2 linked regions of the Homo sapiens genome follow. The protein of the gene in region 2 interacts with the protein of the main gene of each other region in a biochemical or structural test. Each region holds a gene or a part of one and is shown on either strand. Other genes may lie near its edges. The genes, in order: HERC5 and STK38.

What was found.
Region 1: the proteins of STK38 (region 2) and HERC5 form a complex in vitro, tested with the Homo sapiens proteins (one study listed by BioGRID).

Annotation. Positions count from the first base shown.
Region 1 is NC_000004.12:88,454,658-88,470,539, reverse strand, and holds the start of HERC5 (E3 ISG15--protein ligase HERC5), read right to left. Parts: upstream 13,422-15,882; 5' UTR 13,271-13,421; coding exon 13,006-13,270; intron 11,194-13,005; coding exon 11,070-11,193; intron 10,446-11,069; coding exon 10,369-10,445; intron 8,406-10,368; coding exon 8,184-8,405; intron 7,009-8,183; coding exon 6,917-7,008; intron 6,686-6,916; coding exon 6,555-6,685; intron 3,482-6,554; coding exon 3,336-3,481; intron 2,910-3,335; exon of another isoform or gene 2,834-2,909; intron 2,195-2,833; coding exon 2,118-2,194; intron 1,384-2,117; coding exon 1,280-1,383; intron 1-1,279.
Region 2 is NC_000006.12:36,520,560-36,536,441, forward strand, and holds part of STK38 (serine/threonine-protein kinase 38), read right to left. Parts: intron 5,084-15,882; coding exon 5,032-5,083; intron 3,905-5,031; coding exon 3,782-3,904; intron 1,259-3,781; coding exon 1,175-1,258; intron 1-1,174. UniProt on the Homo sapiens protein: Serine/threonine-protein kinase that acts as a negative regulator of MAP3K1/2 signaling. Converts MAP3K2 from its phosphorylated form to its non-phosphorylated form and inhibits autophosphorylation of MAP3K2.

The sequences.
Region 1 (15,882 bases), on a different chromosome or scaffold from region 2:
GAGACATGATAAATACCACATCTTATAACTATCCTTCCAACCTCTCCATTTGTCTCCTATCTGTATGCATATTACCTTGGCTTGGCTTCTAAAAGTCCATTCTGTTTGGTAAATCTCAAAATTTCAGTGGCAAACATGGGAAATAAAAAAGTTTATACATACTCAGAGAAGCCTCAAATAAAGAGGAAAGGCTTGATTTATGGTCAGAACTTTCTTGAACAAACAAAATACTCCCACCCCACCAACTATGCAAGTCCTATTTATTTCTATTCCACTGAAGTAGAAATAAATTACCAGAAATTAAATGGGGGAAGGAGTATGCTCAGTTTCATCTTAGAAGTAGTTGTACAGTTCTTAATTATTTATGCTCTGCAAATTATGATGCAACTATTTTGTGCAACTACTTTGTACAATCATTTTCCAGAATTAGAAAGCCATACCTAAAAATATTTCTAAAAGATGATGTTTGTAAGAATAGGTAGGAGTTCTGTAAACCTATAGGAGTTCTATGGTTTAGAGAAGAATGGTACAAATTGTTCAGCTAAGAATAACAGGTACACAAACTAATGGTTCCAGGATCAAATGGGACTGGGAAACACTATAGACTCTATTTTCTGGCCAGAGAGTCACAATATACATAAACAGAGGCCTGGAGAAGCCCTACAGTAAAGAAAGCTGTCCTCATGGCGCTTACATGCTAGTTGTGATGGGTTAGTTTTATATGTCAACTTGGCTAGGCCATGGTACCAAGATATTTGGTCAAATATTATTCTGGATGTTTCTATGAAAGTATTTTTTTAGATGAGATTAACATTTAAAATGGTAAACTGAGTAAAGCACTTGAACAAGTGAATAAAAAGAAAGGACCTTCCATAATGTGAGTGAGCCTCATCCAGTTGAAGGCCTTAAGAGAAAAGGCTGAGGTCACCCAAAGAAGAGGAAATTCTGCTTTTAGATTGCCTTCAGACTTGAGCTGCAACATCAACTCCTCCCCAAGTCTCCAGCCTGCTGGCCTGCCCTACAGATTTTGGACTTGCCAGCCCCTACAATCTCATAAGCCAATTCCTTAAAATAATCTCTCTCTCTCCCCTCCATAGATACATAGATGGACAGACAGACATGATAGAGATAAAGATAGAGACAGAAATACACACATATCCTATGAGTTTGTTTCTCTGGAAAACCCTGACTACAAAATCTCATATTGCTGTGCAGAACCAGTTTGGGAAATGATACTTGAGAGTGATATATAAGCAGAGAGTCAGACTGTGGGGTGTACCTTTTTGTGCTCTGCCACCGTTTAGTCTCCACATCAGCAATCCATCTCTTTACAGTCCCTTCATTCAGAGTAGGAATTGTCCTCTTCAGATTAACATATGAATTCTGTAAACAAACAGGAAAGTAAAATACAATAATTTAGACACATCAGAGATAGGCACCCAACTTTTAGGTACACTCTAGAGAGTAAAACTGACTTTTAAATATGTGTAATACAGCCCTGGGACAATCACAAAGTGATACTCAACAAATAAGTAATCAATCATTTGCCTGGTTGCCACTTTCTTGTCCAAGGGGGCTTAGACTGAAAGTAAATTTCTTTGAGGACTCAACACTCAGCACTTTATACAAATACAATCAAATTAAACTGAACATCAGACAGCCTTGAAGGGAAGGGAAGATCCTGAAAGAGCTGTGTGCAGAAGTGTGAGGAACTCGATTTCACTTGGTGAAGTAGGGCAGGGAAGTTATGGACTTTTTATTTGCAAGCCCATGAACCTTGGTGTCTTTCTTAGTACTGGCCTGCAAAGTCATTTTTAGAATCTGTCACTCTGTTGTTTGCAAGGATACTGACCAAACATCATTGGCAAGTAGCCCCCAAAAGGTAAGTATAGCCTATGGAAATCACACTGATTAGACATTCACCAGAGAAAAATCTGCTGATTTTTGTGGGAAAATACTGATGTAGTTTAGACAATAAAGGATCAGTAATGTCCAGCTATCCCCCAAAAAGTCAGCCTGGTAAACTGATGATTTTGGAATTCACCAAACTGGGATACTAGAACCCTTAGTTTTGCTTAAAATACCAGGTTATAGAACACCTGGAGATCTATTTTTACCTCTTTCTTTATCCAGAGCAAAATGCTTTGATTCCCTCCAGCAATCATTATTAACTCCTTTTCTGAGGTATGGCTTTCTGAAAGGATGCACAAAGAGTAAGAGTTTTAGAAAGTCATTTGGCACAAACATGCATGTTCAATTTAAATAACTTCAGATTCTTCTTAAACGTAGTCATCTTTTCTTCTTAATAGACAAAACTTAGTACATTTTCTGCCAATTAAGCAGCTGAAATACATATCCTTTGGAGTAAAGTCTAGTTGGCAAACATAGGTAATTCACAAGGTGGACATGTGACATCAGTTTAATATACATAATACAAATATTTATATATAAAATGCAAATATTTGATTAGCTAAATGTTATCAGTTTAATTCAACTCCCATTACTAAAAACCATGTTTTCAAGATTTAAGCAATGACTGCTGGCTATAAAGAATATAAGTACTTTAAGCCCATGTAACTGTTATAAGGAATCAAAGATAATACATGCTGCTTAAGGAAATAACTCTGTTCGTTTTCCTACAAGAAATGAGTAGATTTTGTTACTTGAGGTCACCACTAAGCTTTCAGAAACAAGTAACAGAAATGCTCCAAGGTGCTTCTACAATGGAGTGTTTCAGAGCTCAGACTCTGAGGTCATAAAGGGCACGGGTTCAACTCCAGACAAACCACTTACTGGCCATGATTAAGTGGCTAACCCTTTTCTCTCCAAGTCTCTTTATCCTCCAGTAAAAGAGGAGTGACAGAATACACCTCCCAGGAACTGTTACAAGGATTGGTGAGATAACACAAGTAAGTGCTGAGCACAGTTCAGTGCCAGGTATACGTTGATTGCTCATTATTCTGAGGGTTTTATATGACTGTGGATCAACTTAACCAGGGCAACCAGCCAATTACAAGAATTAGTAAACAACTAATTACAAGAATTAGTAAGTCTCTTGCAAACTGGAATGAGAGCTGCATATGCCTCTGAATCCATTGTCTATTTTATCATTTAAATTCACATTAATCCTAATCTGAAGGAGTAATATAGAATAATTATTTTGCCTCAGTAAATTAGACTGACTCTTGAATTGTTTACCAGTAAAAAATGAAACCAGTATTTAGAGAAACTCCCTTCATAGTCATATGTTGCTTTCTTTGCCACATTACCTAGTTAGAAAAATCATTTTCTCTAAAAAGATACTATGCCAAACCCTATGTTCCTATAGAATTTACCAAGTTTGAGTTCTTCACTTGATGATACTTTCACTGGAAGCGGCATCAGCTGGTCACGTGTTCCACCATTTCCCAGTTGTCCATCTTTTCCAGAACCAAAGGAAAAGACCTTTCCCAAATCAGAAACATAGGCAAGTGTGTGCCACCTATTAAATAAAAGCACATATGGTCAATTCTTAATTATCCACAATGATGAGAGTGTTTAGCAATACAGTAAATTGCCAAAACTATGTTACCCAGTGAGAGTGAAACTAAACATCTCTTAGAGGATGAAAATCATCTGGAAACCAAGAAATCAACATGTACCTGAAAAGACTTTGGAACCCAAAGGCCACTCAAGACCATGATGTCATACTTTGGCAAATGGTGTTCCCTTTGTTGAAACAAGCACCTCCCCTTGCCCTCTGCTCATTTTTCAACATCAGTTTGAGTCACCACCTCTTGGAAACCATCTCTGAGTCCCTTCACTTTCCATCCTGGAAGACTCAGTTGAGTTCCCACTTAATTTCTCAAAGACCTTTACCACACTGATTTTCCTATTGATTTGCTGGTTTGTATATTCCACTATACTGTTGTGTAGCAAGGAATCTGCCTTGCCCAGAGAGGTCTGGCTGGTGCCCTGTTCCTAGGAGGTAACCTCTAAACCCACAGAATTCCCCAAGTGATAGAGGAGAGTCTTTATTATTCATGGCAGGATCCTGGGAGAGCTCTCCTGGCCTGTGATGTAAATCAGACCTACAGGAGGGCAGTGCTGGAGATTAAGTTTAACTATCCGGGCAATGATTTAACCAATCATGCCTCAGCAATAAAACCCCTCAATTTAGGTGGGGTGTGGTGGCTCATGCCTGTAATCCCAGCACTTTGGGAGGCCAAGGCAGTAGGATACTTTGAACCCAGAAGTTTAAGACCAGCCTGGCCAATATAAGGAGACCCTATCTCTACAACAAATTTAAAAATTAGCTGGGCATGGTGGACCTGTGGTCCCAGCTACTCAGGAGGCTGAGGCAGGAGGATTGCTTGAGCCTGGGAGGTCAAGGCTGCAGTAAGCCATGATAGCACCACTGCAGTCCAGCCTGGGTGACAGAGTGAGACCTTGTCTCAAAAAAAAAAAAAAACCACCAAACCAAAAACAACTCTTGACTTGGTCTTGACTTGGGTGAACTCCTCTGACTAGATGGCAGATTATGTACATCCTGTACCCTGTCTCCAAAATAAAAAAACCAGAAAAAACAAAAACAACTCTCAACTTGGGTGAATTTCTCTGATTGGCTGGCAAATTCTGTATGTCCTGTCACATTATCAGGCCAGAAGAGATAACACCATCCACCTGCTCCAAGGGGAGGTGACAGCCACAAGCTCAGCATTTGCAGCCCTCCTATACCCTGCCCTTATGTGTCTTCCTTTGACTGGTACTAGTTTGTATCCTTTTCTTGTAATAAATGTGACTATGAGCATAATAGCTTTTAGTAAGTTCGTGAGTCTTTCCAGTGAATTGTCCTGTTAGTAGGGGTATTGCCCTGATGTGCATTAAGACAGATCTCCAACTTGCCTCCTTCTCTTGTAATACATGCTACTCAAAAGGACTGTATGTAATGAAGAATCCAAAGAGGTGATAAGACTGCTTTGGTTAAGAGATACCGAATGAGGTATAAATATTGAAGAGAACGCTTCTTTGGTGAAGAGACTCATATTCCGATAATTTGGTCTACCTTAATAATATTACCCATTTATGTAATTCTACTCCAAGATCATAAGAAAATATGCCTACAGACTGAAAGTATTCATGCTAGTTTTTTATAAGAATGGTTTCAGTAAACTAACAAATGAACCCAGCATTCAAATACAGTCTGAATTTTGCTCTACGTTTAGTGAGGGAAAAACTGCCCAAAAGAATAAGTGTATATGGGGGAAAATATTTTTTAATCCTACCAACTTCCAACATCCCTCTGGCAAGACGTGGACTGATATATCTGATAATCAAAAAAATTAAATAGTGGCGTGGTGGCTCACCCCTGTAATCCCAACACTCTGAGGGGTCAAGGCGAGCAGATCACCTGAGGTCAGGAGTTCAAGACCAGCCTGGCCAACACGGTGAAACCCCGACTCTACTAAAAATACAAAAATTAGCCGGTTGTGGCCAGGTGCAGTGGCTCATGCCTGTAATCCCAGCACTTTGGGAGGCCGAGGCAGGTGGATCACAAGGTCAGGACATCGAGACCATCCTGGCTAACACAGTGAAACCCCGTCTTTACTAAAAATACAAAAAATTAGCCAGGCGTGGTGGCGGGCGCCTGTAGTCCCAGCTACTCCGGAGGCTGAGGCAGAAGAATGGTGTGAACCCAGGAGGCGGAGCTTGCAGTGAGCCGAGATTGCGCCACCGCACTCCAGCCTTTGCAGCAGAGCGAGACTCCGTCTCAAAAAAAAATAATAAATAAATAAAATTTAAAAATTAGCCAGTTGTGGCAGTGCACGCCTGTAATCCTAGCTATTCCAGAGGCTGAGGTGGGAGAATAACCTGAGCCTGGGAGGCGGAGGTTGCAGTGAGCTGAGATTGCGTCACTGCACTCCAGCCTGGGCAACAAAGCAATACTCTGCCTCAAAAAAAAAAACCAAAAACCAAAAAACAAACAAACAAACAAACAAGAAAACCAAAAAACCTTTAAATAAACTAAGGAGTCTGAGCAAGACATTTTACCTTTCTTTTCTAAAAAGGAGCTGTGAAAATTAAACTTCTTAGGAATATTTCACTCAAACCATCACTGACTATGTCTTATACTTTACTGTGATCAGGGCAGGCTACAATGAAAGAACTCTGGTAATTAAAAAGTATGTTGGCCACAAGGCATTGTCAGAGAGGGTGATTACATTTAATGAATAATCCTTTGTGATTTACATTTTATTTTTCCCAAATAAACAATTAATGACTTGTTTTTTTAAGACAAAAGTGCACCTGAATAGTTACAAAGGTATTTCACTAAGGAGACAGCAGAAAGTGAATTGTATCTGCTCATTTAAAAAAAAAAAAAAAAAAAAAAATCAAAGAAAACAACCATGTATAGTAAAAGGGGTATTACATTTATCTAAATAATATAAATTAAGCATTTTCACTGATTTGAAAATGTTTGATACATCTCAAAGAAACTGAAAGAAATTTTATTAAATTACTATCTAGTTTGCTGCACTCATTTTATCAATTCTTATTGATACTTTACAACTTACCTTCCACATGCTATCTGAGTCACTCTATACCCAACAAGCTCAGCCACCAAACAGGGTCTTAGCTCATTCTGTGTTGAATTATGACCAAGTTGCCCATGTTTTCCAGCACCGAAAGTAAACAGCAGCCCATCCTAAGGAAAGGGAATGTCATATCAGATGCTAGAAAAATAAAATAAAAAAGTAGTATTCACTGATGCAAAGTGAATCACTAATAAATAGCACTGTCAAAGTAAAGCTCCTAAATATCAGAAGGACAGTCCTACATACAGGAAGTGATGACCTTTCTTCTCTGGGAAACACTAACTTCCCATACAAACTGTTCTTCTAAAAATACAGCCAAAAAGAGACAAGGGTACACCCACCTGTGTGAGTAGGGCACTGTGAGAGCCACCACAAGCGACAAATTCAACTTTCTGATTGTCTAGTCCTTCAATAAGGGATGGATCATCTTTACCTATGTAAGGAAAAAAATAGCTGAAGTGACCAAAAGGAAATGCTGAGTTTCACAGTGGAGTTACCTGGACTGCTGCTTCTCAACCCAGCGACAACAGTTCTCATGATATTCTGACAAGAAAGGCTCTATGTTGCCATGTTTAGGATCAAGTTCTACGCCTCAGGGTGAAGGTGGGACCAGTGGCCAAAAGGATCACACTTAGGGGCACCCACCTGTGAAAGGGTCAAACCACTTCCCAAAGCCTGTTCTCAGTTATGACTTGATTCACTTTAATTGCAGCACATTAGATATTTCCAACAGCCATCTAGAATTACTTTTAATGAACATAGCAATTCCTTTCTTTCAAATTATCTACTAGTGTCATCACCTGACACTACCTCTTCTTTTCTTCATGATTATTTTCATGTCAAAAGCACTCAGAGATTCAGCCAAAGTAGTTTAATGGCCGCTTTATTCTCTTCTCTCCTTTGAATATTTTTCTAACACTGACTTATGGGCTATTCTGTGTAATGACCATTGCACTGTGTCAGGGAGAAATGAGTAACCAGTGATCCAGGGTAATGCATACAGTACCACAGCTGGGTAAAGCAGCAGAATTTCTTACACCTGAAAACTCTTAATGAGTTGTTTGGGATCATGAGAAATTTCACCATCAGCTTTGTTCAATAATGGAAATTACATGTTTCTTCATGTGTGTTTACAGACATAATTGATACCTTATAGAATAAGATCAGGATATGTGAGTTCTTAAATATAATTTTAGTATTCTTTTGTAATAATACACTAACAGACTTTAAGTGCAAAGGCTTTAAAGGTCATCTCATCCAAACTTGTCACTTGACAGAAAAAGAAAATGAGGTCTAGAGAAAAGTTTAGTGACTGGGCAAGGCTTGCAGTTAGTAAACTGCAAAGTGGGAATCAGAATCCAGGTTCTCATCCCTAATTCAATGCCCTTTCCCGTCTCACACACAGCCCTGAAACATGTCTCAATTACAGTAACAACTTCCACACTATGTATGCCTCTTGGACTGATTCTGCCCTGAAGACAGAGAGGTAATCAGGAAGAGCAGTGAAAATGAAAGTGAAGATTTGAACCATTTTTGACAGGGAGGTCCATTAAATTCATCTAACAAGTATATCTGTTGGTAATAGGAATCTGAGAATGTGTTCCATACTCTCAGTGTGGCCCAGGCCTAGTTGTCCACATTCATTTTTTCCCCATGAATAAATGTTGCCAGACATGGATAAGGCCATGCTGTGGGCTTCTCCGGCAGAAATCTGAGCCAAGGGTACTCCTGCGAGGTGCTCCACAATCTGTGGTGTGGTGGTTGAGGGAAATTTCCTTCCAACTCCAAGCTGCCCATGCAGGTTCTGTCCCCAGGCAAAAAGCTCACCACCTTGACATAAACAAAGCAAATGCTGTTTTATTCCATTTAAAATGCAGCAGACATTACCCTAAAGCATTATGCATGCTCTACCTAGTATAATATCACAATATTGTACCTTTGCACTGATGGTACTCTCAGTTACCCTATGTCTGCCACAGAAAAACACAGAATCTTCTCTTTAGCAGTGACAGTTACACTTCCTTATCCCTCACTTCAAAAGTGAAGCTATTTGAACATATTAAATAATATCTTCAACATAATAAATTTGATTATAAATCAAATTCAAGAAATATTTACTTTAAAACACTCAGAGGACGGGCCCATGAAAAACAGAAGCAATCTACCTCTATGAAAAACCCCAGCGCTACTGTTTTCTCTCATGTGCCTAATGATCCCAAATAAACAACTGTAAAATTCATTTGAAATTACAAGATCCCAAATAAACAACTGTAAAATTAATTTCAAATTACAGTTTCTTGAACGAGTCAGTTTCTTCTTCCATTAACTGAATATATGGAGCACATTTTTTAGGGAGCGTTCTTAGATGTTATCTGATAGAGCTGACAATATCTAATAGAGTCTAAAAAAATACACCAGAGAATTAAGGTTTACTGGAATCTCTTTGCAAGATATTGTGCAGGATGTGGTGGGAAGCAGAGCCTCTCCTTCACACACAATTTTCATGCACCTGTCAACCACCAGGAATATAATGATGAGCATGACCAGTTTCTTTTCTTGCTTCCCCAACTTTTATTCTTTCTGTACTGTGATTTACTAGTAATAAACTCTGAATATCCCTTTACCCTTGTACATACACGCCTCTAGACCCTGGGCTTCTTAAAGGCAGGGCTTGTGTGTTTCATCTTCATAATCCGAACACAGTAGATAATATGAAATATTTGTTCATGAATGAATGAAGTCAAATGATCAATTTCTTCCAATACAAGTTCATACTATCAAATCTCAACAGGCCTTGCAATGAAGGTCAAATACTCACTAATTATTAACTTCCCTTGAATCCCAGATTCTATTCAGTTTATGAACATGTTTACATCTGTCCTATATATTAACAAAAATTCCCTTGACTTCGAATTCCCCTCTATTACCCTACTTCTATCTTAATTATTCCATTCACAGTAAGTTTCTTTTTTTTTGAGACAGGGTCTCGCTCAGTTACCCAGGCTGTAGTGCAGTGGCACGATCATGGCTCACTGCAGCCTCAAACTCCTGGGCTCAAGGGATCCTCCTGCCTCACCCTCCCAAGTAGCTGGGACTACAGGTGGAAGCCACCATGCCCAGCTAATTTTTAAGTTTTTTTGTAAAGATGAAGTCTCCCCATGTTGTCCAGGCTGGTCTCAAACTCCTGGCTACAAGTGATCCTCCCACCTCAGCCTCCCAAAGTGCTGGGATTATAGGCATTAGCCACCAAGCCTGGCCTCATAGTCAAGTTTCTTTAGGAAATAATTCATATTCACTGCTTCCATTTCCCACCATGACAGTGTCTGATAGAAAATGGGAAATACTACAGGGCTAGGGAGATCCTTGAATTCAAAAGCAATGTTAAAACGTATCAGAGGTCTGCAGCCTGGCCACAAAAGGGGATTCTGAGCCGGAAGAGTGGAAGTTGGAAAGGTGTTAGGAAAAGGGAAGCAGTTTCTGGAAAAGGGTGGCCCCAGGCCTGGATCAGATGTAGAGAAAACAGTTTTGATTATTCAGAAAATTTTCACTGTTTCGTACTTGAAAAATAAAAACATGAAACCAAATTTAGGAATAGTAATTTTGGAAACCTGAACATTTTACAGATCCAAGAATTCTCTCATTATGTATTTACTTTAAGAATCGTACTCGGAACCATATCAAATTCAAAACTGTATTTCTGTCCTGTTACAAGTGAAATATAGACATTCTACTGGCTCCACATATACACACAGGTATTACTTCTACAAAACTATTAATATTACAGAAAAATTACCTTTTGAGAGTGCAAGAGAATGGTAATCTCCACATGTGATCTGAATTATTTTTTTTTCTTGTAAAATGCTTTCAAACCTGATGAAGGAAAATACACTTTGTGTTAATCACCATAATGAAAGTTACAACATGGATTTTAGAACTATTAATAGTATTTAATTAGAAATGAAGCTCAAGAAAAAACTTTCAATTTACTGCATCACATTCAGTACATCTAAAATTATTTTTTAAATACTATGTTTTAATTAAGAAAAAATATGCATTACATAATTATAATAAAATATTATGCAAACAATTTTAGGATGCAGGAATAAATGCAAGATGAAAATGAGTTCTAATTCATATAATCTACTAGGGAAAAGTCTCACAAATTATTTCATGATAATGTGTATTTTTTCTAGGTTAAAAACTTTTATTTCCAGAAATTTAACTTATAGGATTATTGTGAGGATCAAATGAGTTAATGAATAGGAAAGTCCAATTTAGGGCTAGGCAGACTATTTAATCATTTCCTTTAAATGCCAAAACAACACATGATACCTGCCCTGGGGGACATAAGGACTTTACTGGTCAGTTCAGAATTTATTATTTACTTAAGATGCTACTATATAAAGCAGGGGACAAGAATCAGATATTTCCTACAGAAATTATTATTGTCTTTTGATTAAAATTAATTTTTAATAAAAGAAAAAAGTTCCCTACCTTAGATGTTTCATGCTATAGTTGTCATACTCAAATGGTTTTCCATCTGATGAGAGAATCAGCATGTGCTCTGCTCCTTGGTCCACGGAATGTATCTTCATGTTTTTTCCTAATTTAATGCATTCTACAGAGCAAATCCAACCAGGAACTATTGTCACTTTGATTATTACCCACTGTATTACTAACTTCATTATAATACACTTAAAACATCTGGGAAAAATTTCAACTAGACAAGCTTTGACTTACCATGAACTTCTCTTAAGAAAATTCAGGTAGGCAAAGCAAATCAGGAAAGACAACGGTCTTGACATAGATTTTTTTTAATTAGAAAAAATATTGATGTATACTTTGTTGTAAATGGAACATACCCTTAAAATATCCAATTAAATATCTGCTTTTAGGTTCTTGTTTATTAAGACGAACGAAATTTGAAATGACAAAGATGAAAAGGTCTATAAGAAAATATAACTTTAAGACAACATAATCTCATTTCAAGAACAAATAGTGTATTCTGAAACACATTCCTTTCTCCCAAAAAGCAAATAACAGTAATAAACACTTCCCGACAGTTACCAATAGAAACCAATGCCTATATTCTTAAAAGGAAGGATTATGTTTGGGGGACTATCTTTAAAGAGGATGCTGTTGAAAACATTTTTCATTGGCATTAGTGCACATTTGGCCCTTTCTGAAGTTAAGAGATTAAACTGTCCACTAGTAAAAATGTACTCTTATTTAATTTGTTCACAAAAATTAAACTAGGATAGTTTTGGGACCTTGTTTCATCTTCAGTGCTAATGAAATAGAATCTATTCGTGTAAAAATCTCAAAGCACAAACCATATTACAAATGCTAGGGGAACCAAAACAGTTTGGTAATAAGAAATGGTCCAGCAGACTAACGGTTTCTTTTAAAGAGTCTCAGCATTTCAAATCAGTTGAAAAAAAGGAAGTATTAAGAAATGGTATTGGGACATAGGCTAAGCCTTTGGAAAAGCAAATAAATCTAGCTCCCCTCCTACCTCAGTACTGAAAATTCCAAGCGTACGAAAAATTTTAACTTAAAAAAAAAAACCTTAAAATTACTACAAAAATGAGTACATTTTTTAAAACACTGGGAGTGTGGATAGCTTTCCAGCCTAACATAAAACCCATAAGCCTTAACAGACAAAAAAATTGACAGACTACCCCCCAAAAAATGCACTAAAAACAACATGCACAAAAGGCAAAGTGAGAAAAATATTACATGTACGACGTGCAAAAGGCTATTCTTATTCAATATTCAAATACCTCTTCCATACAAATAAGAAAAAGATTTAACAACTCAAATTTCTAAAAGCCAGGCAAAGATAAACAGGCAATTTACCGAAAAAGGAACGCAAACGTCCAGTAGTTAAACGCAAAATAAACTCGCAGCAAGATACCAATTTCTTCACTCCACAGATGGGCAAAATTTTAAAGAACGCGGGCAACTATTTCCCCCACTTCGATGAGAATGTGGGAGAAGTGCAACTGAAGGCCAAGGTAAAATCCCATCACTGAGAACGACTCCCAAAGTTGGAGCAGTGACTACTTTCTCAAAACGAGACAGTGGGAGATGCGGCGGGCGGGGGACGGGGGTACAAACTTGAACAGAAACCTATGAGAAAGCCAGACTGGCTAAAAGGATGAAGACGGTGCCCGCATGCCCCGCACCGGCCACTTTGCTGAGCGGAGGATCCGCTGGTCGCCAGTATCCCGCTCACCCCGCGCCTGACACTGACCGGGATAAAAGACAGCTCAGGTGCGCCGTCGGCGAAACTATCCGAGCCAGGCGCGCGTCTGCGGCCTTCTGGGCTCTCCTCCCTCAGGCGCGGACCCCCGGCTGCCCGCCCCTCACAGCCCTCAGCCCTCACCCCTCACAGCCCTCACAGCCCTCACACACCAGCCCCACTCACTCGGCGTCCGGGCGCCGCCGCTCCCGGCGAGCAGCTGGTGAACCTGGACGCCCGCCCCGCCGCGTTCCAAGACCGCGAGGCGCCCCGGCGAGCAGCAGAGTTGGCGCGTCACCTCCACCCTCCGGAGCAGCGCGCGGTGGAGGCCCGCGGCGCTGGGAAAGAGCCAGAGCTGTGCGCCCGGAGACTTCGCGGGCTGGGTCGCGGCGGCCTTGCCCGCGGTCGAGCGCCCGTTGCGCCGCGACTTCCTCCGCGACCTCCGCTCCATCGCCGCTTTGCGGGGTCCCAGGCCCAGAGGCGAGAGGAGAGAACGCCTGGTCCCGGGACTGAGCGCGCCCACTGCCTCAGGCGTTGCGCTGCAGAGCGGGAACCAGCTGCGCGCAGCTGCGTGGCGTCGGGGAACCGCAGCCTCAGCTACTGAGCCCCTGCCGGGACGCCACGCCCCCCACGTGCTGTTTGGGGGCGGGGCCTGCAGCTCCAGTGGAAAACGAAACATAATGTTTGTTGTTGTTTTTAGGGGGCGGAATCGAAAAGGAAAAGGAAACTGTAATGAGAGTGACTTGGCAGGCGGCCAAAGGCAACAGGTCGTTGGCTGGGGTAAAGGCCGATGGGCTGGACTGAGAAAGTGTCCCCGGGCGGGCAGCGGCCACCTTAACTCCTGGACGGAATGGCTTTCGAGGAAACGCTGCAGTTCCACTAGGAGGCACCCTGACACACGCATTTCCAGAGGGAGGGATAACGGAAGCCAAAGTTTGTTAAGCGTTGTGCGCCGCGGCCGGGCGCGGTGATTCACGCCTGTAATCCCAGCACTTTGGGGGGCCGAGGCGGGCGGATCACGACGTCAGGAGATCGAGACCATTCTGGCTAACACGGTGAAACCCCGTCTCTACTAAAAATACAAAAACAAAATTAGCTGGGCGTGGTGGCGGGCGCCTGTAGTCCCAGCTACTCGGGAGGCTGAGGTGGGAGAATGGCGGGAACCCGGGAGGCGGAGTTTGCAGTGAGCCGAGATTGCGCCACTGCACTCCAGCCTGGGCGACAGAGCGAGACTATGTATCAAAAAAAAAAATGCGTTGTGCGCCGGGCTGAAACCGGCATAAAACTGGGCAGAGCTATGCAGGCAGCTACCCTCCCCCCCACCCCTACCCCCACCCCCACCCCCCTCGTGCCCGCTCCGCTACGTATTCCCGTATTCCCGGGTGCCTGGCAACAGTGATGTGCTTTAGGCCTTTTTTAGAATGCATACAAACGGAACCATATCTAAGTGATGTCTGGCTTTTTTAACTTAGCACAATGCTTTGAGATTCATACTATTGTGTTTAATTAGTAATTCATTTGTGTTATTGTTGAATGGTAGTCTATCATATGGGTAAGCCACAGTTTATTTATCCATTCACCAATTGATGGGCCTGTCGGTTGTAGGGAACAGGAGAAAACTTCCCCTTTGCCCTCTGAAGGGTCACCGAAAATCAACTGACAAGGCTGGGCCTGGGCTCCTGCCTGTAACCCCAGCCCTTTTTTAGCCCAAGGCAGGAGGATCTCTTCTTTGTGAAGTGTGTATTCAAATCTTTTGACCATTTATTTATTAGCTAGCTTGACTTTTTATCTAAGAGTTCTTTATATATTATTGAGTTCTTTATATGTTTCATACCATGTTCTTTATTAGCTATACGTTTTGAAATGTTTTCTACCTGTCTGTGGCTTGCCTCTTCATTTTAAGTGTCTTTTGAAGCACTGAAGTTTTCAATTTTGATGTAATTTATCCATTTTTTTCTTTTACATAGTTCATACCTTTTTTGTCCTACTTAAGACATTTTTGCTAAATTCAAGATTATAAGATTTCCTCATTTGTTACCTTCTGGAAGTTTTATAATTGTTGGTCTTCATTATATTTAAAATGAATTATTCTTTATAGTATCGATAGATGCTGGAGGCAGATAAGGGAGGGTCCCTGGAGAATCTCTGACCTGCCTCACAAGCTTTTGTGCAGCTGAGGAAGCCTGCCCAGGGTCTTGTCTGGGCATGCCCACAAGGGACTTGGGGGCCCACTGCACCAGGAGAGTGGGGTGCAGCCAGAGGGAATTCAGCCTTATGCAGCAGGGATGAGCAAGAAGTCTTCAGCTTGTGTGTGTTGGCCTGTTATTCAGTCTGTGAGCTGGGAGCCTGTTGGCAGGACCCTCCTTGTTTTTTTGCTAAGAGCTTTTAATAAATGCCACTCTTCACCTTGCAATGTATTCACATGCCTAATTGTTCCTGGTCATGAGACAAGAACCTGGATTTTAGCTGAGCTAAGGAGCAAAAATTCCTGCATCAGTATGAGGTAAGAATAAAGGTTCTTTTTTTTCCTTATGGATTTCCAGTCGTTCCAGCTTGCCTATCCCCATGGAATTGCCTTGGCATCCCTGTCAAAACTCAGCTGGCCGTATATTATAACCTCAGAGCCAGCCCAAACTGGCCCTACTCTGTTGATAACAAAATGGCCAGTTACCCTGTAGGTATAACAGAGCCAAAACTGCAAGTTATGTAGACTGGGCATGTGCCATGGAAAAAGCTTTGACCTCTAACAATGAAACGGGAAAGGTTCCCTTGTCCCCTTCGTAGGGCATGCGGCAGTGGGAGTGGGTCGCTTCTTCAGTGCCCCACTGCTCACACCTCTAGGGGAGCATACAGACAGGCAGGTTTTGGGGCTCCAACCCCACGCCAGTGTCTAGGGGTGGATGTTTACTGCTCCTGAAGCACCAGTGGGCTGTGCTACTGTGTGCTTTTTTAGTTTTGCTGTCTATAGGCACTTGTGTTAACCAGCTCAATTAGACCCTCTACCTTGTCACAAGGACAGAAGACTTTCTGTATCCCAGGTTCTTGCCTTGGTGTACCAGAAGA
Region 2 (15,882 bases):
AGCTTTATATTTTCCTTCTCAAGATTAACTGAAACTTTTTCAGTGCCTACACACCCATACCACACACTAATTTGTAGATAGTATGTAAGTAGGCCGGCCTACTATGAATTTTGAAAAAGGTTGGCGTTAGCATAAACTATAGTGTCTCAAGACTTACCGCCCAGGTATTTGATACTCCCAACTGAAATTCCTGGGAGTCTAAAGCTTCTCGGTAACACATGAAAATTTGAGAGAAAATAAAAATTCCAAATTTTGGGGTGGCATTTAAATGAAGACAGGGAAGACCAGTGATTATATCTCCTCTCAAGAGGTAGAAAGGATTGGATGTGGGGCCAATCTCCATCCCCCCTCTTTGGCCCTAAATTAGGAGTTCTCCTTGTCACAGGGTCTCCATGTTCCTATAACATCAAATCTTTTACAGGACATTTGCGGTCATCACCCACTGCAATCTTTTCTTAAGCAACCAGCTACATTAAACTAGATTTATAGAAAGTCTATTCTTGCTTTTTAAAATATACTTTCCAATATTTAAAACCTTATTTATTTTGCATAAGGCACTTTATAAATTGATTTGCAAACCAGGTTTTGGTTTTAGAAAGTATCCTTTATCATTAAAGGAGAATTTGCATTGTTCTGTCATTTGCATTGTATTTTTCAAATTCATTCAGAAATTAGAAGGCTGGTCTTTTTCAGGTACCGATGAGCTACCTAGAAGACTCAACTTTGGTTTAGGTAAACAGAATGAAGCATATAAAGACACATTTTAGATTATAAATTCCAAATTCTAATTCCTAGTCCTTAGTTATGAGATATATATACAATTTCTATTTCTCAGCATTTGGTAAGAAACACACTACCACACCACGTACGACCTCAAAAAAAAAAGGCTCTCACAATAAGGACATCTTGTGATCAATTGGAAGACACAAGTAAGAGCTGCTTTTGGAACAGATTTTCAATTTTTAAAAGATTGCATATAACCTACAGGCATTATTTGTGATTTTAAATATGAACTGCTTCTTTGTAGGGGGAAAAAGGTAGTATTATATATATAGTCATACATGACAGAGCTAAAGAAAACTGTAATAAAAATATATATTTCAATTAAACAAAAAGAAAAGTTTTAGGAGACAAAAATTAATAAGCTAAAAGCACTGCTACAACTGTGCTTTACCTGCTCTTTTTCAAGCATATCTGCTTTACGGAGTATTTTCATTGCATACACATGTCCCGTATCTTTCTTCTGAACAAGCCGTACCTAAAAAGTTATAAAAGAAATGCCAAGTCAAAAACTCGTACTACCAACCTAATGCTTTCATGTGTTATAGGATGCAATAATTAACTGAAAAAGTATTACAATTTTAACATGAGCAACTAGTAATAACAAAGCAGAAGAAAATGCTTTTCAGTGTTCCAAAATGAATACATTACACACAGTAAAGTCGATGCTGGAAACATCCTCAAATACCTCTACATCTGAACAGCTTTGGTTCCTTAGTTGAACAAGCCAATCTAATTTAAAACCTTCAATTTCAAATTTAAGGACTCGTTACACCTCTGACACATGTCATCCAGTCAGCTCAGAAAATCTAAGTAAATGATTACAATGATGTTTAATTAAAACAAAAGTAGCTGTGCATGGTGGTGTATACCTGTAGTCCCAGCTATTTGGGAGGTTGAGGTAGGAGGATCGCTTGAGCTCAGGAGTTATGAGCTATGGTGCATTATGCTGATCAGGTGTCTGAACTAAGTTCAGCATAATATGGTGACCTCCCAGGAGCAGGGTGGCAGAGGGGGGGCCCACCAGGTTGCCTAAGGAAGGGCAAACAGGCCCAGTTCAGAAATGGAGCAGGTCAAAACTCCCATGCCAATCAGTAGTGAGATCGTGCCTGTAAACAGCCACTGCACTCCAGCCTGGGCAACACAGTGAAACCTTGTCACTTAATCATAATAATAATAACAAAGTAAAACTTCATGCTTAGGAAAAACGTCTGGAAAGAAAAACAAAAAATTCAGGCCAGGCGCGGTAGCTCACACCTATAATCTCAGCACTTTGGAAGGCCGAAGCAGGTGGATCACCTGAGGTCCAGGAGTTCGAGACCAGCCTGGCCAACCTGGTGAAACCCCGTCTACTAAAAATACGAAAATTAGCTGGGTGTGGTGGCAGGTGCCTGTAATCCCAGTTATTCGGGAGGCTAAGGCAGTAGAATCACTTGAACCCGAGAGGCGGAGGTTGCAGTGAGCCAAGATCAAGCCATTGCACTCCAGCCTGGGCAACAGAGCAAGACTCTGTCTCAAAAAAAAAAAAAAAAAAAAAAAGAAGAAGAAGAAAATTCAAAATGTGTAATTAGGGAAATTGTGTTTTATGTAGTTTTCCTTCTCTTTTATGTTTTCCAATGTTCTTAAAGAAAACAGATAATTTTATGAAGAAAATTTACAACCAAAAGAAAAATTTCACTGCAAGTTCCTGCATGTCCTCCCCTCTTCTCCCAAAATAAGTAGGTTTTCTTCTCCCTGAACCTTTCTTCATGTTTTTCCTAATTGAGTACCACAACCCTTCCTTGCCAAACAGAAAGCTCTTTCAGAGGTGGTACTATACTTTTCCCTCTTTCAAGAAGCCAATAGGAATTCTGAACACTGAGGGATCAATCTATCACCTGTGCCTCTGAATACTATTCACATTTCCCCGGGGTACCAGGTTTTTTGTTTTTTTTTTTTTTTGAGATGGAGTCTTGCTCTGTCACCCAGGCTGGAGTGCAATGGTGCAATCTCGGCTCACTGCAACCTCTGCCTCCTGGGTTCAAGCAATTCTCCTGCCTCAGCCTCCTGAGTAGCTGGGATTACAGGCACGTGCCACCACACCCGGCTAATTTTTCTATTTTTAGTAGAGACAAGGTTTCACCATGTTGTCAGGCTGGTCTCGAACTCCTGACCTTGTGATCCGCCCGCCTTGGCCTCCCAAAGTGCTGAGATTACAGGAGTGAGCCACCGTGCCTGGCCCCGGGGTACCAGGTTTTAATAATATACTGCTCCTTTTATACTTGCAATTATTGCGTCAGTAGGTCATCCAGTTTGGGCATTTTTCATTAACAGGAATGACCTTGCATGGGCTCTTTCAAGCTCTCCCCAACAGATTGCTCTTGTGCCCAAGCAGGATCATTTCCAAGAATTGCGGGGACAAAGTCGCAAATGCTTTCAACTCTCCACCACTACCTATATAACTCCTTTCTGTAAATCCTCCCTCCTAGGGTCATCTTTTTAGAGCTGTATCAATCTGGTGGGGAGAAATAAAGGGTGGAGATACACTATTAGTTTCCTTCTCGAGAGGCAGTGCAGTACTGGGAAAAGCAAGCTCTTTGAGTTCAGGAAGTAGAGCCCAACTTTTGGTCCCAGTACTCAATGGCTGTGTGATAACAAGAGACATTATATATACCTTTAGAGTCTTAATTTCACCATCTATAAAATGGGTTACTGTCCTGATTATGGGAAAAAAGCAGCCTGTAAATAATAAATGTTGATTTCCTTCTACCTTTCAACTCTCCCCCTAAGTCAATATTTAAACACCAACACCATCTCTGGCAAAACAGAGAACAGAGATCTGGGACTGCGGAGAGAAGAAAAAGAGAAAGCAGACAGACAAAGCAATTAGGATGTGGGGCTGGCATGCCTGACTCATTTAATTCCATATATTTGTTATATCAACAATCATGACTTAATGGTATGTTAGAAGCTTTGAAGTTTTGCAATATTTTTCTACTTGACAAGTAGCTGTGATTTTTACCTCACCAAATGCTCCTCTGCCTATTACTTTTAAGGACTCAAAATCTTCCAATCCAAGTCTTGTTCTCTTCAAACGAAGAAACTCTGTTTCCTTCCGAGCATGTGCTGATCTCCGGAGTCGTTTCTAATATTTAAATAAAAAAGGGAGGAGACGGGAAGGAACTGAAATTCTGAAACTCTGTAACAAGTCATGTTTGTGACTTACCCAGCTAGAAAACAGGTCCAAGTGGACTAAGGATAATCTTTTCACATATGAAATCACCCCAGAAGGATCCTTAAGAGGTCACTTCTCCCTTTCCTGGCATTTAGACACAACATCCAAGCCACACTGAACAGATGGGTGCCTCCTCTGGGAACTCTGACTAACCTACTTCAGCAATCCACTATCCTAACATTTTTGGTGAAGGGAGGGATAAATAATCAACAATATTTTCCTTTATCCTGTTTAATATAAATTAAAAATGTGTTCTTATCTTTCCCTCTGGCTTAAACACTGTATACTCTAACTTTCTGTTATTTCTACAAGTATTGGGTATTTTTCACCACCGTCCTGGGTTCTGCAAGCCAGTCCTATTTTTGAAGGCATTTCCACTACCATTTCAGTTCCTTGCACAGTCCCTTGTTAACTATATTTTCTCCTACTGTATCTGTGGGCACTGGGTGGAAGGGCTGATTTGAGATGGATATTTTGCCTTAATAAAGATTTCAGGAACATGACACACCGGGGCCTGTCGGGGCATGGGGGGAAAGGGAGGGAGAGCATTAGGACAAATACCTCATGCATGCGGAGCTTAAAACCTAGATGACAGGTTGATAGGTGCAGCAAACCACTATGGCACATATATACCTATGTAATAAACCTGCATGTTCAGCACACGTATGTATCCCAGAAAAAGTAAAATAAATAAATATTTCAAAAATTTGCCCTACTCCTACGGAGACTTTTCAGTGAATTCTATAAAAATGCTACAACTTGCTCTTTTAAAATTTAATTTGATTTCATCCCTGCTTTCTCTTGGAATTCTAAATCTAGTTTACTATAACTGCATCTAGAGAAGCCTTCCTCTCCTAGGTACTTAATAATTAATCTGTCCCTCTGAATTAACACCCAAATCCGGAAGCACACTACCCCTCAAGTTCCTCTGTTATTGAGCCAAAACCCTTCTCATGTGTACCAAGGCTAACAACTCACTGGACAAGATACAACCTGCCACGCTGGGTTTTAAGGAAAACATTGCCAATATTAATTACCTCCTCATCTTTTAGGCCTTCTTCTTCCATCACCTTTTCTAACTTCTTTTGTCTAAAACAAACAAAAACAAAAGACATGAAATCACATCTGAATGATAACTTTCTGAAAATTCTGTAACTTAATACTGTAGTAGATTTTTAAAAATGACACAAACAGGTAAATCTCAAAATGTCTCATTAAAACAAAAAAAATTAAGTTACTAAGACAAGTAAAAAGATTTCCATCCTTTGTTAGGCCTACTTTTTTTTGGCGGGGGGAGGGGGGCAGGTTGCGAGGAGAGGAGACAGAGTTTTGTTCTGTCACCCAGGCTAGAATGCAGTGGCGCAATCTCAGCTCACTGAAATCTCCACCTCACAGGCTCAAGCAATCCCACCTCAGCCTCCCAAGTAGCTAGGACTACAGGCGCGTGCCACCATACCTGGCTAATTTTTAAATTTTTTGTAGAAATGAGGTCTCATTATATTGCCCAGGCTGGTCTCAAACTCCAGCCTGACCTTCCAAAGTGTTGCGATTACAGGTGTGAGCCACCATGCCCCGCCCTTAGGTCTACATTTTTTAAAAGACTGTCTAAGATGTTAATGCAACAAAGACTCTTGTTTCAAAAAAATGTCCTCTCTTGGTTTTGGGTGTTTTTTTTTTTTTTTTTTTCCAGTTATTTCCTCCTTACCAAACCACAAAACAGCTGGTATTTGATAAACTCTTATATCATGCTGTTTCTTTCCCTCTCTCTGACTGAAGTCTACTTCCTTTATTTCTGCATCTTCCTCCTCTTCCCTGCCATGAGGAAAGGGTAACAAACAACAAAGTTAAAAGCAGAATTTGGAAATTTAAGGGGAAAAAGTGATCAAAAAGGTGACTGGCACCACTATCAAAACTCCATATATCAGGCTGGGTGTGGTAGCTCACGCCTGTGATCCCAGCACTTTGGGAGGTGAGGCAGATGGGTCACTTGAGGTCAGGAGTCCAAGACCAGCCTGGCCAACATGGTGAAACCCCATCTCTACTAAAAATATAAAAATTAGGCCAGGTGCAGTGGCTCACGCCTGTAACCCCAACACTTTGGGAGGCCGAGGCGGGTGGATCACTTGATGTCAGGAGTTCGAGACCAGACTGGCCAACATGGTGAAACCTGGTCTGTACTAAAAATGCAAAAATTAGCCAGGCATGGTGGCATACCCTGTAATCCCAGCTACTTGGGAAGCTGAGACAGGAGAATCACTTGAACCCAGGAGGTGGAGGCTGCAGTGAGCAGAGATCACACCACTCACTGCACTCCAGCCTGGGTGACAGAGTGAGACCCTGTCTCAAAAAAAACAAAAAGGCCGGGCGTGGTGGCTCACGCCTGTAATCCCAGCACTTTGGGAGGCTGAGGAGGGTGGATCATAAATTCAGGAGTTCGAAACCAGCCTGGCCAACATAGTAAAACCCTGTCTCTACTAAAAATACAAAAATCAGCTAGGCGTGGTGGCGAGCGCCTGTAGTCCCAGCTACTCAGGAGGCTGAAGCAGAAGAATTGCCTGAACCTGGGAGGCAGAGGTTGCAGTGAGTCAAGATCACGCCACTGCATGCCAGCCTGGGTGACAGAGCAAGACTCCGTCTCAAAAAAAAAAAAAAAAATATATGTATATATATATATATTTATATGTATATACACATGTATACATATGTATATATGTACACATGTATACATATATACATATACACATATGTATATACGTATATATACACACATATATATACACACACATATATGTAATATATGTATATATATTAGTACACACACACACACACACATATATGTATATAAAAATTAGCTGGGCATAGTGACAGGTGCCTGTAATCCCAGTTACTTGGGAGGGGCTGAGGCACAAGAATCACTTGAACCTGGGAGGCAGAGGTTGCAGTGAGGCGAGAGCACACCAGTGCACTCCAGCTCAGATGTCGGAGTGAGACTCTGCCTCAAAGAAAAAAAAAACCTTCAGACATCAAACTTTTGGAATACTGAACTTTAGAAAGTACATGCAGTAATGTTTTTGATCTATAGTCTCATAAAACTAAAAGAAGCAAGTAAAACTTCCTTACAACCAATTCCACAGAACCTTCATTTATTCAGCACAATAAATGAAAGCACATGGGCTAGAATCTCTCCTCCACCACTCATCAGCATTCCAGATAAACAGGCAATGTGTACAAACAGAGCAAAGAAGGATAAGACTACAGTATGCTGGCCAGGTGCGGTGGCTCACGCCTGTAATCCCAGCACTTTGAGAGGCTGAGGCAGGCAGATCACGAGGTCAGGAGATCGAGACCATCCTGGCTAACACAGAGAAACCCCATCTCTACTAAAAATACAAAAAAAAAAAAAAAATTAGCCAGGTGTAGTGGCCGGCGCCTGTAGTCCCAGCTACTCGGGAGGCTGAGGCAGGAGAATGTTGTGAACCCAGGAGGCGGAGCTTGCAGTGAGCCGAGATCGCACCACTGCACTCTAGCCTCGGTAACAGAGCGAGACTCCATCTCAAAAAAAAAAAAAGAGTGTACAGTATGCTGCAGAAATAGCATGTAGTCCATTGTGGCTGACGCACACAGCACTACAAATGCCACACCAAGAAGGTTGGATCTCATTCTGTAGACAACTGAGTGCTAAAAGAGGCTTGTGTGCAAAGGAGTGATGTGATAAGATTTCTATTTTAGAATGGTAACCAGCAGTAATGAGGATCTGATGGACTGGCAGGGAAAGCAACTGAGAAAGAGGCTAGTTGAGAGTTATTGTAATGATTCAGATGTACAGTAAAGATCTGGAACTAGGGCAGGAAAACTAGAATGAAGTGAATAGAGCTATTGCAAATATGACCAACTGGCAATAGGAGTCAAGAGAAAAACCTTAGAATTTCCTGTCTAGAGGGATATGATGCCACTAATCAAGACAGGAAACAGAGAGAGGAACACGAACAGTTCTCCCAGTTCCCAGAATATTTTGGGATACATGTGCATCTATGCGTGCACATGTATTAGAGAGAAAAGGCTGTACTCTTAGTAGTTTCGGGAGTGTAAATTAATTCCATTGCAAGTGGTTAGGTAGTTGAAGCAGAGAAGAACAAGAAAAGTCAAAGCATAACATGCTAGGCAAAAGCTCTAAGAACACAGCTGTGGTCAGCTCTTTTTGTGCCTTGAGTACTAAACACCATCATACGTCCTGACTACACGTTTTTGAATGACTACATCAGAATGGGCTACCAGTCCAATGCACTATCCACTGTGTCACAAAAGTGGCTCCTTCTAATTATATTTTAAACCTAAATACAAACTAAGAGGTTTTCCACAGGTTTACTGAAGTGTAATTAAATTGGTTGCAGAATACCTGCCTGAGAGTGAAGTTAACTCCTTGAACACAATCAGATTATTTCATTAGAGAAAGTATCCAGAAAAAAAAAGCCTATCCATGATAACAATTAGGACCAGGTCCACAAAGACCTTGAGGACACCAAAAACAGCAAGGACAGCCTGAAATGAGACTTAAAAATGACATCCTCTGTGAGATGACATCAAAGGAATTACTGTTAACTTGGTTAGATTCATGGTGGCATTTGCATTATGCAAGAAAATGGCCATATTTTTGGAAATGCATACTTGACAGTATGTAGGATTAAAATGACAGATGTTTGGAATTTACCTTAAAACACAATAGCAAGAAAAAACAAAATGGGATAGATGAAGAAAATGTACCAAAGCCCTAAAATTATTAAATCTGAGGGATGAATATATTGAAACGGGGTCACTATATTATTCCACCTATGTTTAAAATTGTTCATAATGAAAAAGAATAGCAGGACTCTCCACACAGGCATGTTCTCTGGTAGCAGTGCCAGGTTAACTAACACTCCAGCCCTTGGTGGAGCCACTCTTCCCTTCAATTCCAATGTTCAAAACCAGAACCCTAGGAGAGAGACGAAGCCACTTTCACACTTAGAGGCCATATCCAGCCTCACCCCAGTGATGCCTTCCATGTGTTCCATTTAGTTGCGTGTGTGTTCATTTCTTATATGAGAGAGTGGTAAGTCCTTCTGAAGGCAGGGACTATATCTGAATTCCCTATGTCCACTAAGAATAGTGCTTTGTACACAGCTACTTTCTAAATGTATGCTGCTAAATTTTAAAAAGTCAGAATGTATAGCAATGTGCAGACACATTCATGACTACTACTTACAATTAGCCCCCTTTTCTAATCTAATTTAGGGTCCCCTCTTGGCATAGCCTGATTTGGAGGTAGCAGGGATGAGAGAATAGGGCTATTCCACCCTAATTGAAAACAGACAGTATTTTGGTGAGACACTGAAAACCAGGAAAAATAGTGTATTTAACAGAAATAGGGCCAGGCATGGTGGCTCACACCCGTAATCCCAGCACTTTGGGAGGCTGAGGCTCGCACACCGCCTGAGGCCAGGAGTTGGACACCAGCCTGGCCAACATGGTGAAACCCCATCTCTACTAAAAATACAAAAATTAGCCGGGCGTGGTGGCACGTGCCTGTAATCCCAGCTACTCAGGAGGCTGAGGCAGGAAAATCTCTGGAACCTGGGAGGCAGAGGTTGCAGTGAGCTGAGATCGTGCCACTGCACTCCAGCCTGGGTGACAGAGCGAGATTCTGTCAGAAAGAAAAGAGAAGAGAAGAGGAGCGACAGATCGAGATTCTGTCAGGAAGAGAAGAGGGGAGCGGAGGGGGAGGGGAAAGGGCTGTGATTACATCTCCATGATTAAAATTCAGAAAATGTCTAATAAATACTTTTTTTTTTGAGACAAGAGTCTTACTCTGTCACCCAGGCTGAAGTGCAGTGGTACTATCTCGGCTCACTGCAACCTCTGCCTCCCGGGTACAAGTGATTCTTCTGCCTCAGCCTCCCGGATAGCTGGGATTACAGGTGCCCACCACCACGCCCAGCTAATTTTTGTATTTTTAGGAGAGATGGGGTTTCACCATGTTGGCCAGTCTGGTCTCGAACTCCTGACCTCAAGTGATCCACCCACCTTGGCCTCTCAAAAAGTACAGGGATTACAGGCGTGAGCCACCACACCCGGCCTTTTTCCTTTTTTTCTTTTCTTTTCTTTTTTTTTTTTTTTGGAGACAAGAGTCTAGCTCTGTTACCCAGGCTGGAGTGCATGGCACAATCTCGGCTCACTGCAACCTCTGCTTCCCGGGTTCAGGTGATTCTTGTGCCTCAACCTCCCGAGTAGCTGGGATTACCGGCATATGCCACCATGTGTGGCTAATTTTTGTACTTTTAGTAGACACGGGGTTTCATCATGTTGCACAGGCTGGTCTTGAGCCCCTGACCTCAAGTGATCCACCCACCTCGGCCTCCCAAAGTGCTGGGATTACATGTGTGAGCCCCTGTACCCAGCCAGAAATACCCTAAAATTAACACTACACAGATTCTTTAAAATCTCAACAAATTACTTCAGTTCTACACTCTGGTTTGATATCTGGTCAGTGAAGAACATCAGGAGGTCTGGACTTACTCATTCTTGAGGCTTAAATAAAACTGACACTGGATCACTAATAATAATCACATATTTCTACTTAGTATTAGATAAGACCAAATGAGGAATTTCTCCAGTTAAGAAAACATAGATGAGAAAATCTAAGAGGAGTTGCAGAACATAGAAATTCTCAGTAAAATGTATGAAAGACTTTGTTTGATTTGGGAAGAAAAAAGCTTACCATTATTACCTATTAAATTAGGTGTTTATGGTTTTAATTAATCCACCTAACTAGTATTCATGAAGAAAAGAAACAACTGAAAATGTTTTGTAAAAAGAAATGCCGGTTTCTTCAGATTTGATTTCAAACTGCTATGAATTATCTAAAACATTGTTTTTTAATGAAAAAGTAGACAACTGTCAATACCTACTAGGTACCTAGGATCACATACAGAGAGAATACAAAGAGAGCTGCTGCTCCTAGAGAAGGTCACAACCAAAGCTGCCATTGAAGGCAAAACACAGACTGAAGGAATAGAGCAGATGCACTTGCCCTATTGAGTGCTTATGATCTAACAGTGGTATTAACAGGAGACCATCAGGTGGCATTCTGCAGCACTGTGTGATGGACACTAGATTCAGGGGGTTTAATTATTTTTAAACCAATCTGTAGAAGCTACTATATTGTTTCTATGAAACTGCTCAAAATTATCATATTTTATGTTTACACAGGAAACAATTCCCAAATGAATTTTATTCTTTCTTCTATCTCTGGGCTTTGGACACGTATGGCCTTGCAGTAAGCCCTTTGTTTCAACTATAAACTAGTGTTCTTTATGATGGAACAGGGAAAGAGTTGCATAGCAATGCTAGGAATAACAGATATTTTAAAGGTACCTAGACAAGACACAAAATAAAAAAAATGAAAATTTGTATTACAACTTGGTCTCAAAATTTACTAGCCCAATACTTATTATTTCAAACCTCCATCATATATTATCTCTTCATTATCAATTATCTCATATCATCAAAACTGTTTATTTATCAAGGTCCTGCAATGTGTCCCTCCAGAACATCAAAAAGGTTGCAAACTCAGGCCAGGCAATCATGGCTCATGCTTGTAATCCCAACACTCTGGGAGGCTAAGGATGGCTTGAGCCCAGGAGTTTGAGGCGGCAGTGAGCGAGCCATGATCACATCACTGCACTCCAGCCTGGGTGACACAGTGAGACCTTGTCTGCATAAAAAAAAAAAAAAAAAAAGGTTTTAAACCTTGTTTCTCACAATCCAACTTAGTTTACTTCTGAGGTAACTCTTGTCAATCACTTTTTAAAAAATTTTCTAGGAACAATAAAGCCTGAAAGTCTTATTGAGCTGTATCAGTAAATCCAAAACCTACTAGCAGCTCATACAAAAAAGAGGGTACTAGCCGGATGTGATGGCTCACACCTGTAATCCCAGCACTTTGGGAGGCCAAGGCGGGTGGATCACTTGAGGTCAGGAACTCAAGACCAGCCTGGCCAACGTGGTGAAACCCCATCTATACTAAAAATACAAAAATTAGGCCAAGCACAGTGGCTCACACACTCTGGGAAGCTGAGGCGGGCAGATCACCTCAGGTCAGGAATTCAAGACCAGACTGGCCAACATGGTGAAACCCCGCTTCTACTAAAAATACAAAAATTAGCCAGGCATGGTAGTCCATGTCTGCAATCTCAGCTACATGGGAGGCTAAGGCAGGAGAATCACTTGAACCCGGGAGGCAGCAACTGCAGTGAGCCGAGATTATGCCATTGCACTCTAGCCTGGGCAAAAGAGCAAAACTCCGTCTCAAAAACAAAATGAAAATACAAAAATTAGCCCGACATGGTGGCGTGCTCCTGTAATCCCAGCTACTCGGGAGGCTGAGGCAGGAGAATTGCTTGAACCCAGGAGGTTGCAGTGAGCCAAGATGGCGCCACTGCCCTCCAGCCTGTGCAACAGAGTGAGACTCCATCTCAAAAAAAAAAAAAAAAAGGGGTACACAACAAAAAAAGATCTACAAGGATATATTAATTCTGAAAGGCTGAAAGTACTAGTGCATTGTTGTTTTTCTTAAAGAGATGGCGTCTTGTTCAGTTGCCCAAGCTGGAGTGCAGTGGCACAATCATAGCTCACTGCAGCCTCAAACTCCTGAGCTCAAGAGATCCTCCCACCTCAGCCTTCTGAGTAGTTAGAACTACAGGTGCACACCACCACACGTGGCTTACTGTTCTTTAATGAAAAATAATGGCAATTTGATAAGCAACCAAAAACAAACATTCTAACCCTCTTAAATATCTAACATTCTCTTCTGTCTTTTGATTAATTTGGTCTTTCAAAAAAAGCAAAACCACCAATGCTGTATTTTTAAAATTTTGTTTATTTTTATATAACCCTCACTGCTTCTGGAACCACTGAAACTTTTAGAAGGCTTTTCTATCTTAAGAATCCAAAGAATGCAAAGCACTGCTGTCTGCTCATTTTGGGGTATAATCTTAGTGTTAATCACAATGTATCATTTATTAATAATGTAAATAAAACCATACATCATCTTGTTCCTGCAGAACGTGATACATACCAACAATAAACCATAGCTAGGGCAGAACCAGTAGGATAAAACCCAGAGGACTACTACTAAACAAGTGGCTAAATCAAAACTCATAACCATTTGCTTTATAATTACAACCCCAGTAGCTATGATTTCAAGAAGTGACTGTATTTGAAATAACTGTCTCCACAGGTTTCACCTGCCTAAAGATATTCTGAACAGATTTACGTTTGAATTCCCCATGATCCTAACACGGGACACTGTGCAGACACTTGTTTACTCCAGTGAACAGCAGCTAGCCACCACCAAGCATAAAAAATTTGACTATTCCACATACAGAACTGCATATTTAAGGTCAAATTATATATCCCATGTAAATTATCACTTACACCCTCATGAAGAACAGGATTGCAAAGATCCTTATCAAAATATTAGCATATCAACCCAGCAACATAAAGGAGATAATACAATGTCATCAAGAGGGTTTTACCCCTGAAACGTAAAGTTAGTCTAACATTCAAAAATCAGTCCATGTAACTCACCATATTAAAAGAATAAAGGAGAAAAACAATATGACCATTATGGAGATGATGAAAAAGCATTTGAAAAAAATTCAACACCCACAAAAAAAATCAAAACAAATGACAAAAATAAAAAATAATAATAAAAAGAAAAAATTCAACACCTACTCATGATAAAAATTCTTAGCTCCTCAGCCAAATTGGAACATAGGCTGAGTGCAGTGGCTCACACTTGTAATCCCAAAACTTTGTGAGGCTGAAGCAGGAGGACTGCCTGAGGCCAAGAGTTCAAGATAAGCCTAGTCAACATAGTGATATCCTGTCTCTACAAAAAGGTAAAAAAAAAATTAGCCAGGTGTGGTGGCACATACCTATATTCCCAGCTACTCGTAAGGCTGAGGTGGGAAAATCACTCGAGCCCAGGAGGTCAAGGCTGCAGTGAGCCATGATTGTGCCACCTCACTCCAACCTGGGTTAAAGCAAGACCCTGTCTCTAAAAAAAAACAATAAAAAAATTTTTTAACCCAAATTAGAACATAAGGAAACTGCCTCAACCTATAAAGGGCATCTTTAGTAAAACAGTGAGCACGTTTGCTCTTAAATCAAGAAGAAAACAAAGATATCCACTCCCACTACTTCTATTCAACATTTTATGGAATTCCCAGCTAGTGCACTAAGGCAAGGAAAAAAAAAAAAAAGGTGAATAGATTGAAAAGGAAGTAAAACTGTCTCTACCTGAATATCACAAGATTGTTTACATAGAAAATCCTAAATATGCAAATTAAAAAAAAATCTAGACTAATTAGAAAGTTACAGAATACAAGATCAATATACAAAATTCAGTTATATGTCTATATATTAGCAGCAAACAACTGGACAGTGAAATTCTAAATAGCATCCAGAAAACCCCCAAATATTAGAAATAGATTAACAAGACATGTAAGATGCACACACTAAAAATTATGAAAACACTGTTGAGAAAAACTAAAGAAGACCTTAAAAATGGAGACATGGGCCAGGTGCAGTAGCTCATGCCTGTAATCCCAGCACTTTGGGAGGAGGCGGGTGGATCACCTGAGGTCAGGAGTTCGAGACCAGCCTGCCCAACATGGTGAAACCCCGTCTCTATTAAAAATACAAAAAATTAGCCACGGTGGTGGCAGGTGCCTGTAGTCCCAGCTACTTAGGAGGCTGGAGCAGGAGAATTGCTTGAACATGGGAGGCGGAGGTTGTAGTGACCTGAGATCACACCGTTGCACTCCAGCCTGGGCAGCAATAGCAAAACTCCGTCTCAAACACACAAACAAACAAGCAAGCAAACAAACAACAAGAAAAACAGAGATCTGCAATGTCCATGTAACAGAAGACTCAATATTGTTAAGATGTCGATTCTCCACGAACTGATCTACAGAGTCAATATAATTCCAATAGTAATTCCAGGCCGGGTGCAGTGGCTCATACCTATAATCCCAAAACTTTGGGAGGCCAAGGCGGGTGGATCATGAAGTCAGGAGATCGAGACCATCCTGGCCAACATGGTGAAACCCCATCTCTACTAAAAATACAAGAATTAGCTGGGTGTGGTGGCGTGTGCCTGTAGTCCCAGCTGTTAGGGAGGCTGAGACAGGAGAATAGCTTGAACCCAGGAGGCAGAGGTTGCAGAGAGCCAAGATCACGCCACTGCACCCCAGCCTGGCAGCAGAGCAAGACTCCGTCTCAAAAAAAAAAAAAAAAAAGCAACATAATTCCATTGGGCTTTTCCGTAGAAATTAATAACTTGACTCTAAAATTTATAATAAAATGCAAAGAACACAGAATACTCAAAGCAATCTTAAAATAAAATGACCAAAGCTGGAGGACTTACACATTACCTGACTTCAAAACTTACTACAAAGCTACAGTAATCAAAACAAGGTGAGACTGGCTAAGGACAGACAAGGAAATCAATGGGACAGAAAAAGAAAGCCCAGAAATGAATTCACACCTATATGTCACTTGATTTTCAAGAAAAGTGCCAAAGCAATCTCATGGGGGAAGATCTTTTCCACAAATGTTGCTAAAATAACTGATATCCAAAAGGATAAAAATCAATCTGAACTCCCCACCTCATATCATACACATCTATTAATTCAATATGGATCACAGAACTAAATGTAAAAACTAAATCTAAAAAACTTCCAAAATGGAACATAGGAGAAAATCCTTATGACTTGGGGATAAATAAAGGTTTCTGGCCAGGCACCGTAGCTAACGTAAGTCCAGCACTCTGGGAGGCTGAGGTGGGA